Linked DNA regions of Homo sapiens. The protein of the gene in region 2 purifies or fractionates together with the protein of the main gene of each other region. This does not show direct contact. Each region holds a gene or a part of one and is shown on either strand. Other genes may lie near its edges.

What was found.
Region 1: the proteins of VSIG2 (region 2) and KIF14 purify together in Homo sapiens (affinity purification with mass spectrometry; 3 studies listed by BioGRID and IntAct, with this or other methods). This does not show direct contact.
Region 3: the proteins of VSIG2 (region 2) and TNPO3 purify together in Homo sapiens (affinity purification with mass spectrometry; 3 studies listed by BioGRID and IntAct, with this or other methods). This does not show direct contact.

What each region holds. Positions count from the first base shown.
Region 1 is NC_000001.11:200,600,104-200,603,754, forward strand, and holds part of KIF14 (kinesin-like protein KIF14), read right to left. Parts: intron 3,239-3,651; coding exon 3,123-3,238; intron 1,966-3,122; coding exon 1,793-1,965; intron 401-1,792; coding exon 253-400; intron 11-252; coding exon 1-10. UniProt on the Homo sapiens protein: Microtubule motor protein that binds to microtubules with high affinity through each tubulin heterodimer and has an ATPase activity. Plays a role in many processes like cell division, cytokinesis and also in cell proliferation and apoptosis.
Region 2 is NC_000011.10:124,750,140-124,753,890, forward strand, and holds the start of VSIG2 (V-set and immunoglobulin domain-containing protein 2 isoform 1 precursor), read right to left. Parts: upstream 2,117-3,751; 5' UTR 1,999-2,116; coding exon 1,938-1,998; intron 1,442-1,937; coding exon 1,284-1,441; intron 783-1,283; coding exon 575-782; intron 1-574. Other genes in the region: ESAM (endothelial cell-selective adhesion molecule precursor), read right to left, coding at 3,507-3,751.
Region 3 is NC_000007.14:128,996,083-128,999,733, forward strand, and holds part of TNPO3 (transportin-3), read right to left. Parts: intron 3,209-3,651; exon of another isoform or gene 3,141-3,208; intron 1,454-3,140; coding exon 1,307-1,453; intron 1-1,306. UniProt on the Homo sapiens protein: Importin, which transports target proteins into the nucleus. Specifically mediates the nuclear import of splicing factor serine/arginine (SR) proteins, such as RBM4, SFRS1 and SFRS2, by recognizing phosphorylated SR domains.

The DNA.
Region 1 (3,651 bases), on a different chromosome or scaffold from region 2:
TTTCCACACTCTTTCCAAAGACAAAGAAAATAACAGAGTTAAAAACATCCAGATGTATAAGATTGAGAGTCAAGAGACAATCAATGAAAATTAGGCAACTACCTAGTAATATTTAAAATATGATAATCTGGGAGTGGGCTGCTCTATTCATAAGGAAGGTCGGAAAAATACTCAGTATCCTCTTGAGGTCCCTGCCATTCCTATGATTCCAGAGCAACACACTTAACATTTAGAGTACTGACTGTACTCTACCTTTGCATTTCTGCCATGTCTCTCTCCTGTTGATGCAGTTTCATTCTTAAGGATGTTATTTCTTGCCGACAGAGCCTGTATCGTTCAGGGTCAATATTCCGACTGTTTCTCTGAGCAGCTTTTAGCTTTGCAATTTCTGCCTTCAATTCTGAAGATTTATACAAAGATGCATTAATAATAACATTTAATATATAACAATTTCCACAGTAAGCATAATCCTCCAATCTTCTATTTCATTTGAAGTTTTAAATACAGTATTACTAAATAAAATAGAATATTGGAGAAATCAGCTCTACTTTATATAACCTATAAATCTTTACTTAGTCTTAACCTGAAATATGCTCCCATATTAATGAACTTTCCCTGTTCATAAGTAGGAAAGCTGTATAATGTACTGACCAAAGTGGAACACTTTTGAGAGGCAAAAGGGTAATTGTTAAAGTGAAAGTTTATTTAAAAAGTAAAGAAATAAAAGAATGGCTATTCACTAGGCAGAACAGCCAAGATCAAAGATTTTTCAAGCTGGAATTCAGAATATTTATTTATTTATTTATTTAGACAGAGTCTCACTGTCTAGAGTGCAGTGGTACGATCTCGGCTCATTGCAACCTCCGCCTCCTGGGCTCAAGCAATTCTCCTGCCTCAGCTTCCCGAGTAGCCAGGATTACAGGTGCCCACCACTGTGTCTGGCTAATTTTTGTATTTTTAGTAGAGACAGGGTTTCCCCATGTTGGCCAGGCTGGTCTCGAACTCCTGACCTTAAGTAGTCCGCCTGCGTTAGCCTCTCAAAGTGCTGGGATTATAGGCATGAGCCACCATGCCCGGCCCAGAATACTTATTTTTAATGAAAACAGTCCCACTTGTGAAACAGAAGGGATCCAAAAGGGAAAGGATGGACCAGGATAGACAAATCAGATTCTTCTCTGGCTCATACATCTGAAGTGTCTATCACCTTCTGCTGCTAAAAAGGGCCAGAGGACAAAGGGGCATGAAAAGATGATAGTTCTACATCAGCAAAGATAAAACTGTACAAATCAAGATTTCTTGCAGGCATTAAAGTCTATCCTAAATTGATGATTACCTAGAGATAAATAGAAAGCAGTATTTAGCATAAATGAAGTTCAGCCTATACTAGAAACTCGAGCTCCAATTGCCTTTGGATCAATGAACTAAGCATGAGCAGAGCTAGTACATAAAACGTCAATGGAAGAGAGGTCATAAGAGAAAAATAGTAAATAGTTTTATTGGCATTTTGCTGCACACGTCTATGACTGTGTAAATTTATTGTTTAATGCTTACTGTTTCCCCCTTACTCACACTCTGTTTTCTATGTTCTTTTCCTAATTGTTTTTCTCCTTATTACTTATTATCTGTCCTTCTACCTATCATCCTCCATCACTATAGGCTGATGACTAGAATCTATTAAAATAGGTATAGAAAAACACCTTTGATGTTCATAAATTACATATTTTAAGACTGCAACTAATATCTGGGACTAAACTGTGGCAAAACAATTTTTAAATTCTGAGAAAATATTCACCTCTAATTAACTTAGCGTTCATATCTTCATTTACTTTAGCAATGTTGACTATTAAACGGGCTTGGTTAGCATATCTAAGTGTGCTTAATGTTTCTTCTATGTTGCTGGCAGCGGGACTAATCGTAGCAATCATTGCAGTTTTTGAATTTCCACCCAGACTTTCTTTTAACAGCCTACAAGAAAAAAAGTCATAAGACTTTGCTTCTACAACAACTTAATAACAGTAATTATCTAGAAAGCACAAAACAAACTAATAGGGTATATAATACAGTATTATTATACTCTACTCAAATACCATTTAAAACTTTTCTGGTATTTGTAACTATTTCTAGATCTCATAAACACTTTTTCTCTCTTACACTTTTTATATTGTTTCAAGAGGCAATAATCTGTGCAGAGATTCTAAAATGTGGTGGATCATCAAGTATTTCATGACTGTGAGCTACCATAGGGAAGGGACTATGTGTCTTGGTCATCTTTGTATTTCCAGTGCTACCACAACCTTTTGAAGCAGGTGCTCAATAAATGTTGAAAATGATGAACATTGAAACAAAAATTCTATATTGTACTAAAAGCAAAATCTTTATTTTAGAGAAAAAGAGTATGAGACTTAAAACATATATTAGTGCAGAATGAATGTCACTATTTTTAACTTTCATAAGACATGAAAAAAATCAGATTTTCCCTTATAGGTTTCAAGGTGGCAATCACATTGTAATAAACCAATTATAAAGACACATTACCCTCAAGTAAAGATGCAGTCCTTATTGTAACTGTATATTAATGCCTATCACAACTGAATATTAAATCCATACAGATGTAATCTGAATGTAACATATTGAAAATTAAATATACATTCACTAATGAAAACATTTATTGAGCACCCATGTATTAGTCACTGTGTAGTAAGCAAACAAAATTATTCAACTTCTCTTTATACAACTAGCAATATGTTTGGTAGTACCATATATGTTCAAACATCAGCCACAAATAATAGTTAAGTACAAGAACAGTTATTTACACTCATATAGTACATATTATGTATTAAGAATTGTACACTAATAATCTAATTCTCACTTACCCCTAAAAGGTATTGATTTTATTCCTATTTTACAGATGAGGAAACGGGCTAGAATATTAAGTAATTTGCCCAAAGTCACAGAGCTTATAAGATGCTGAGCTGAGATTCAAATCCAGGTAGTTTGGCTCTAGAATTCATAATGCTTACCACCTTTCTCCATCCCAAAGTTAATGAAGTCAGTCTATCATTCTTTTCCCCATAGTATTCACTATATTTTATACAATTCTTTATACTTCAAAAGATACTTGCCATGTAAGAACAGATTCACGATAAGGAATAAAAACACTCCTTTGGTTTGCTTGTTCCGAAAGTGCAGATATAACTTTTCCCAAAGTTAGCAAGGACTTATTAATACTCACACCTTCCTGCATGCAAGAAAAAAAAAATTTTTAACTTAAAATACTTCTCAGCAAGAAATTTATTTCACAAAATATATTTCTCCCCTCATATAATTACTGAGTAAATACTTTTTTACTTTCTTTTTTTTTGAGACAGAGTCTCACTCTGTTGCCCAGGCTGGAGTGCAGTGGCATAAACATGGCTCACTGTAGCCTCGACCATCCAGGCTCAAGCAATCCTCCCACCTGAACCAAGTAGCTGGGACTACAGACACATGCCACAATGCCTGTCTATAAATACTTTTTTCTATAAACTACCAACTTTCTTATGACTCAAACGTATTTTCTTTAAAAATTAATCATAACCAAAAAGTACGTATCTCTTTTTCAACCACAGCAATGCAGTCTATAAACTGCAGATAAAGATATATTTGGGGAGG
Region 2 (3,751 bases):
AAAGAGAAATTAAAATCTCTCCTCCACATGACAGCCCTTTGGATAGTTGAATCCAGCAGTAATACACCCATCCGAGGCCTTCTCTTTTCCATCTAAACACTGCCAGTCTCTGTGATAGTTTTTCTGGTTGCTCATCTCTGAAAAGGCTCTAGTTTGGGGTGAGACAGAAGCTCTGAGCACGAAGTTGGTGCTCAGTAATAGGGGCCCTTGTTCCTTTGGTGGCCACTCCCCTTCTCTGCCATTGACCTTGGGAGGGACAGAATCCAACTACCGATGAGAGCCTCCCCCATGATGGAGCTGCTGGGAGCAGGCTCAGATCCCCATGTATGGGAAGGACTTTCTCTCACACACTCTGTTATTAGGCTCTGATGGAGGAGATGCTCTCGGTGGAGGGTGGAGTTGGAGTATGACCATCTGAATTAGAAGACTTGGAAAGGGAGTATTTTCACTTGGGGCCCCCAGTGCAGTTGTGTGCTTGGGCTAAAAGTCAGAAACCAGAGATTTAGCAAGACCAGTGCAAACGCCCCAAGTATGTGAAAGAGTATGTGGCTCGTGGATCCCCAGTCTGCCTTACCCAGCACAGTAAGGTTGATTAGCCCCAACCCATTGGTGTAGAAATCTGGTGGGTTGTTGACTTGGCAGAGGTAGGTTCCAGTATCTGAGGGGTGGACGTCAGTCAGTTTCAGTGTGGCCACCCCCACTGTGGGGGGGTTCTGAAGCAGGCTGACCCGCTTTGACTTAGAACCAGTTGGATACAGATGGCCATTGGTGAAGTACAGGATCTGGGGAGAGGCAGAAGACACACATATGTGCCTGTTTCTGCCTGGCATCAACTCTACAGTCCTTCCTCATCAAAGTGGGTATAAGAGGCCTCTGACTTACATCAGCCAGGGAGGCTGATACCCTTAAGCTGGAACTCCAAAGGTCTCTCTGTCCCCAAACACCACCCCCTTTCAGGTGCTAAATGAACCTGATCCATTGGTCTCTCTCTCTCTCTCTCAAAGAGAGAGGCAGAAGAGGCAGCATATTATCTTGGTATCAGTCACAACACCTTAGTGTCAATGGATACACTAAGGCAGGGGAGTTGGAAATAGGAGCTATGGAAGAGGAAAGGAAGATACACGGTCAGGCAGACTGCAGCTCTGAAAAGATCTAGGGAGAGCCCACTTACCTTTTCATCCAAGCATACTGATCCCCAAACTCCCCCTCCCGACCCCATGCCCTCATCCTGGGCTCCTGTCCCTCCAGGCCAACCCAGCTTCATGCAGTCGCTCTCAGCTCACTGGATGGGACTCAGAGATGGGTTTCCCAGGCTGCACAAAGCTCCACTCCAGGGCGAAGCTGTCTCCCACCGACGTGCTGTAGGTGCAGGTCAGCTCGGCTGTCTTCCCCAGGGGCGTGCTCAGCGGCTCTGTGGGTACCTTCACCTCCACGGCCAGCCCTGGGGCCGGGGACCAGAGGGAGGTGGGAACCCAAATTCCAGTGATCTGGAGGGTCGGGCCCACCCCCGGGCATCTATATTGGAAGCTGGGGGCTCCCTCCCCAGAGCACAACCCTCTCCCCTCAATCCAACCCCTCCCTTCCCAAAACCTGAGGTTTCCGGGAGGGGCCGGGTCTTTGTGGGTAAAAGAGCCGGAACCGGGCCAGGTAAGAGGGTGTGTGTGTTTAGCAGAGAAAGGAAAACACTAGCCCTGCGGTGGGGTGGTTCAGGCCTGTGCCGCGGAGAGGCCCAACTCGCTCGCCGGCTTGGGGGTCTCTCTCCTACGCCCTCCGGGCCTTGGACACCCCCTCTCCGGCCTCACCTCAGGCGCCTTAGGGCCCCTGGCGCCCACGGCAGCCTCATCTGGCCTGGCGGGGACAGAGTGGGTCCGAGGAGCCGGGGAAGCCAGGCCTATGCCCCCCAGCCCTCGCCGTGGTCCCGCCCGGCCCCTCCTCACCACTCAGGCACAGGAAGCCTAGCAGGGCCCCGCAGAGAAAGGGCCCCGGGAGCTCGGCCATGGCCGCGTCCGGCCGTCCTGTCCTGCTCCTGCCAGGTGGGCGGTCAAGGTCGGTCTGGGTGTCGGGCAGGGAAGGGAGCACCCAAGGGCAGCCGCCCGGGCTGGGCAGGAGCGAGACTGGTATCTCAGAGCAAACAGGGGAGAGGCCGGCGCCGCAGGTTAAAAAAAAAAAAAAGTGCTCCTCCCTCCTCTCCTCCAGCCCCGATTCTGCAATCCCTCTGTCCCTTCTTCCTCCTTCCTTCCTCTTCTCCCCAAGGTCTGAAGCTGTCCGGCCTTGGGAAAAGCGCTGGGCTTGGGGTGGGCCTTCTGCAGAGACGGAAGGAAAGCTGACTTTGGAAGGCGTCCTGATACCCCAGAGCTGGCAAGGGGAGTCCCCACCTCGGAGCCTCACTGTGAGTGTGAGCCCCAGGCCGCAGACCCTTCCTGTCCACAGCGCTTTTCATTTCACCACTTACTGAGGTAGGAGTCTCTGTAGAAATGAGCATCTCTCCATTTCCAGAGCCACTCCATTTTAGGGGCAGAGAAACTGAGACCTAAAGGAGACCTCACCCTTGGTAGGAAAGAACATGGCAGAACTTGGACACAGACCTGCACCTCATACTATGCCCAGCTCTCCCTCAGTAACAACAGAGATCTCTTCCAGATGGGCAAGGAGTGTTTTGTTAAGGATTCCGTGGTGTGGGAGAGGAGCCCACGTGAGCTTCCTCTCCCCTGTCCCTGAAGAGGAAGCAGATGAGGTACACGTACCCCCTAGCCGGGAGCACTCAAGCTCCAGCAGAAAGCGTATCAACTCCATCCCTCTGCTGTTCAGAGTAGCTTAGAGTCTCCTCCCCTTCTCCACGTGACAAACAAGGACCCTTCTAAACACTAGAAGAGCTGCTCTAAGCCTGTGGGGGGAAGCCCTCCTGGGTACACAGCTTGGGAAGGGGTCCACTTTGCATCCTCCTGAAGCTCAATTTCAAGAATTCTTAGTTTGAAAAGGCAACTTGTTTCTTATCTCATACAAACATTATGTATCTTTATTTAAATTTGCAAATGAAAACAACACATATTTCATGTTAGTTTTAATAAGAGATTCCCTATCCTCTGCCCCAGTAAAACCTAACCAAGCCAGCCTGACAGGTTATATCAATACAGGGAGCTGGAGTGGGAGCCAAGGGTGGTGTTAGATAGGGGTGGGGTACAGATCAAGGGGGCCTGGGAGACTCAGTGACTGGAAGTCTCTGCCCCTCACTCTTGGTGAGTAGCTAATTTCAGCAGCTGGCTTCATAAGGAGGAGTCAGGGGTGGGTGGAGGCTCCTCCCAATTCCAGATCCACTTCCTCTTCTCCTTCTGTCTCCTGGACACTTAGGTCTTACTGAGATGGTTTTCCCACAGTAAAGAGAGGTGGGGGCAGAGTACTAAGGGTCAGGAGTGTGACTCTTTCCCATGACTCAGGCCTCTGTGCTAGAGGTGACCCTTATAGGAAGGAGAGACCCCAAATCCTTTAGCCAATGAGTGGTGGGGTCATCATACCAGAGAGCCAGCTTGACTCTGGGCAGGCACCATCACAGGCACAGCACCCATGCGGCTCAAGCCAGAGGAAGAAACCCCACCAGGGATGGGGGATATTGGTTGAGGGTGGGCCCCATCTGTCGTGGGCAGTCTTGGTGAGGGCAGGGCCTGGCTGGAGAGACTGGGCGTGGGGGTCAATGCACCAGGCCTGGGAGGGCCATGGGGTGGCCGGAGGGCTCGTGCGGAGGTGACAGAGGAAA
Region 3 (3,651 bases), on a different chromosome or scaffold from region 2:
CAAAATACCATGACTCAAACACAATACTAACATTAAAATTAAGAGAACAGCACGTGGGATTTAATTGTAAGCAATAAAACTTACTGCAGGTCCTAGATTAAAGGACGGATTCAACCAACCAACAGGATGAAATCGATGTGGCAAAATTTGAAGAGACTAAGCATGATGTTTGAAGAGTTTTCTAATAAACTAATAATTTTCTAGTATTTTTTTCTAAGCAAATAGATTTCTATATTCTTTTAAACTACAAAATCAGTATAAATAAGATTTAAAAAATGTGTATCTTCATGGGGCAAAATCATACACACAAATATTTCACTTTTGTATTAGTTTTCATCTAACCACTTATTTTCTACTATTTAATAAGGTACAAAATTTTGGCCAGGGGCGGTGGCTCACACCTGTAATCTCAGCACTTTGGGAGGCTGAGGTGGGTGGATCATGAGGTCAGGAGATCGAGACCATCCTGGCTAACACGGTGAAACCCCATCTCTACTAAATATACAAATAATTAGCCTGGCATGGTGGCGGGTGCCTGTAATCCCAGCTACTCGGGAGGCTGAGACAGGAGAATGGCGTGAACCCAGGAGGCAGAGTTTGCAGTGAGCAGAGATCACGCCACTGCACTCCAGCCTGGGTGACAGAGCGAGACTCCGTCTCAAAAAAAAAAAAAAAAAAAAAAAAAAGAGTACATAATTTTACATTCTGATTTTTCTCTTACCATATCATCATTTCACTACCTTTTAATTGCTGCATCAAGTTGCTAAATCATAACTCTTCTTATATAATTCATATAACTCTTGTTATACTGCTGTACATGGGTTTATAATTTTTACTTTTACAGATAACATTTTGTATATAAAATAGCTGTTTTTTTCTTCTGCAGATTTAAGATATACTCCCAGGAAAAGAATTACTGGTTTAGCTGGAGTGTTTTGCTTTTTTTTTTCCCTAAATAGACCTAACAGATTATACTGGTACTGACTTCTTCAGTATAAGCTGTAGAGTCTGCCAATCCTCCCAACTCAGCTTCCTGAGTAGCTAGGACTACAGGCGTGTGCCACCAGGCCCAGCTAATTTTCTTTTATTTCTTTTTGTAGAGACAGGGGATTCCCTATGTTGCCCAGGCTGGTCTTGAATTCCTGGGCTCTAACGATTCATCTGCCTTGGCCTCCCAAAGTGCTGGACTACAGGCATGAGCCAGGGTGCCCAGCCAGGTTTATTATCTATCTTCTCAGTTCCTTTTCAAGTTGGCACTGACAAGAGGAAGAAATTAAGATTTGAAGAGGTAGAGAAGGGAACTTACATGGTCTGGTTCCAGCTGGCAGTGTCGAGCCAAGGCGTGAAGCAGCCTCTGAATGTAAGCTTTGAAGATGCCATGAATAACTTCATCGTTAGTTTTGTACAAATGTTCCCCCAGTCGGTACCAAAAGTTAAATGAAATTTCTACTACCTGTTAGGTTAAAAGAGATGATTTATTTGAATGGGAAAGGAATAGAATAAGAAGACATTTTATTATCACCACGACCATATAGGAAGAAAGATATATTTTTAAATAATATGAGTGGAGCCAGTTAAGAAGTCACCTTTTCTCTAGCAGATTTACTATTATCTCCCCAAATTGTCTTCCCACGTTAGGCCCAAATCTCCATTTAGAATGACTGGCTTTACATTCCATTTAGTCCTGAGGTAATGCCTCCAAAAGTATACTGAATTTTGAATTTAGAGAAAACAATAACAGACATGGAAGTCTTTATTTTTATTTATTTTTTAGAGACGGAGTTTCATTCTGTTGCCCCAGCTAGAGTGCAGTGGAATGAACACAGTTCACTGCTGCCTCAAACTCCTGAGCTCAAGTGATCCTCCTGCCTCAGCCTCCCAAGTAGCTGGGACTACAGGTACACACCACCAAGCTCAGCTAATTTTTTTTTTTTTTTTTTTTTTTAGTAGAAACAGGGCCTTGCCATCTTGCTCAGGATGGTTTTGAACTCCTGCCCTCAAGTAATCCTCCCACCTAGGTCTCCCAAAGTGCTGGGACTACAGGCATGAGCCACCACATAGTTTTATTTTATTTAAAACAAATTTCAGCCAGGCGCGAAACACCATCTCTAAAAAAATACAAAAATTAGCCAGGCATGTAGGTGGCACATGCCTGTATTCCCAGCTACTCAGGAGGCTGAGGTTGGAGGATCACCTGAGCCCAGGAGGCTGAGGCTACAGTGAGCTGTGATTGCACCACAGCATTCCAGCCTAGGCAACAGAGTGAGACCCTGTCTCAAAAGATATATATATTTTCTTTAGAGACAGGGTCGCCTAGGCTGGAGCACAGTGGCACAATCATGGCTCACTGCAGCCTTGAACTTCTGGGCTCAAGCAATCCTTCCACACAGCCTCCTGAGTAGCTAGGAGGACTACAGGCGCTTGCCACCATGTCTGGCTAATTTTTAAAATTTTCTGTAGCGACAGGGTCTTGCTCTGCCATCTAGGCTGGAGTACAGTGGTGTAATCATGGCTCACTGCAGCCTCAAACTCCTGGGCTCAAGTGATCCTCCCATTCAGCCTCCTGAGTAGCTGGGATGAAAGGTGTGCACCACCACACCCAGCTAATTTTTTAAATTTTCTGTAGAGACAAGGTCTTGCTTTGTTGCCCAGGCTGGTCTCGAACTCATGGGCTCAAGCAATCCTCCCACCTCAGCCTCCAAAAGTGTTAAGAGGTATGAACCTCATTAGAGGTATAAACCACTGTGCCCAGCCAGAAGTCTTTTTATTTTTATTTATTTATTTTTTTTGAGATGGAGTCTTGCTCTGTCACCCAGGCTGGAGTACAGTGGTGTGATCTTGGCTCACTGCAACTTCCACCTCCTGGGTTCAAGTGATTCTCCTGCCTCAGCCTCCTGAGTAGCTGCGATTACAGGTGCGCACCATCACCCCAGCTAATTTTTGTATTTTTAGTAAAGATGGGGTTTCATCATGTTGGTCAGGCTGGTCTTGAACTCCTGACCTTATGATCTGCCCACCTCGGCCTCCCAAGGTGCTGACAGGCGTGAGCCACTGCGCCCGGCCAGAAGTCTTTTTTAAAGTACTTTTCTGAAAATTCTGAAATCATTTCATTGAATGTTTGAGATTAGAACATTTCTTACTTGGCAAACCATCTGTAACTCCTGAACATAACTGATTCAGCTTCATGTCACTTTTATTCACCTGTTTCCTTGAGTGTGAGAGAAAGGGAGAAAAAGCCTGGGATTTTACTCGTAGCCTCTTTTCCATATGGTACTGTTTAAAGGAGTGATAACTGCGTGGTGTTACATTCTCCCAGAAATGTTTTGGGTTCCATTCAAATCTAGGTATCCTCGTAACATTATGTAAAACAAATAAACGTTGTCTTGTATGTGATAACAGAAAACAGGCCGAGAGTCACAGGACCACTGTGCCTAAGGCACAGTAAGAGGATCCCTACCATCCTTTTCCCATCAAGGATCCAAAACAGAGCTATTTAAAACAATGCCCAACTTGGGAGCACTTCTTTCTCACTTTTTTTTTTTTTTTTGAGACGGAGTTTCGCTCGTCTCCCAGGCTGGAGTGCAGTGGCCCGATCTCAGCTCACTACAACCTCTGCCTCCCAGGTTCAAGCAATTCTCCTGCCTCAGCCTC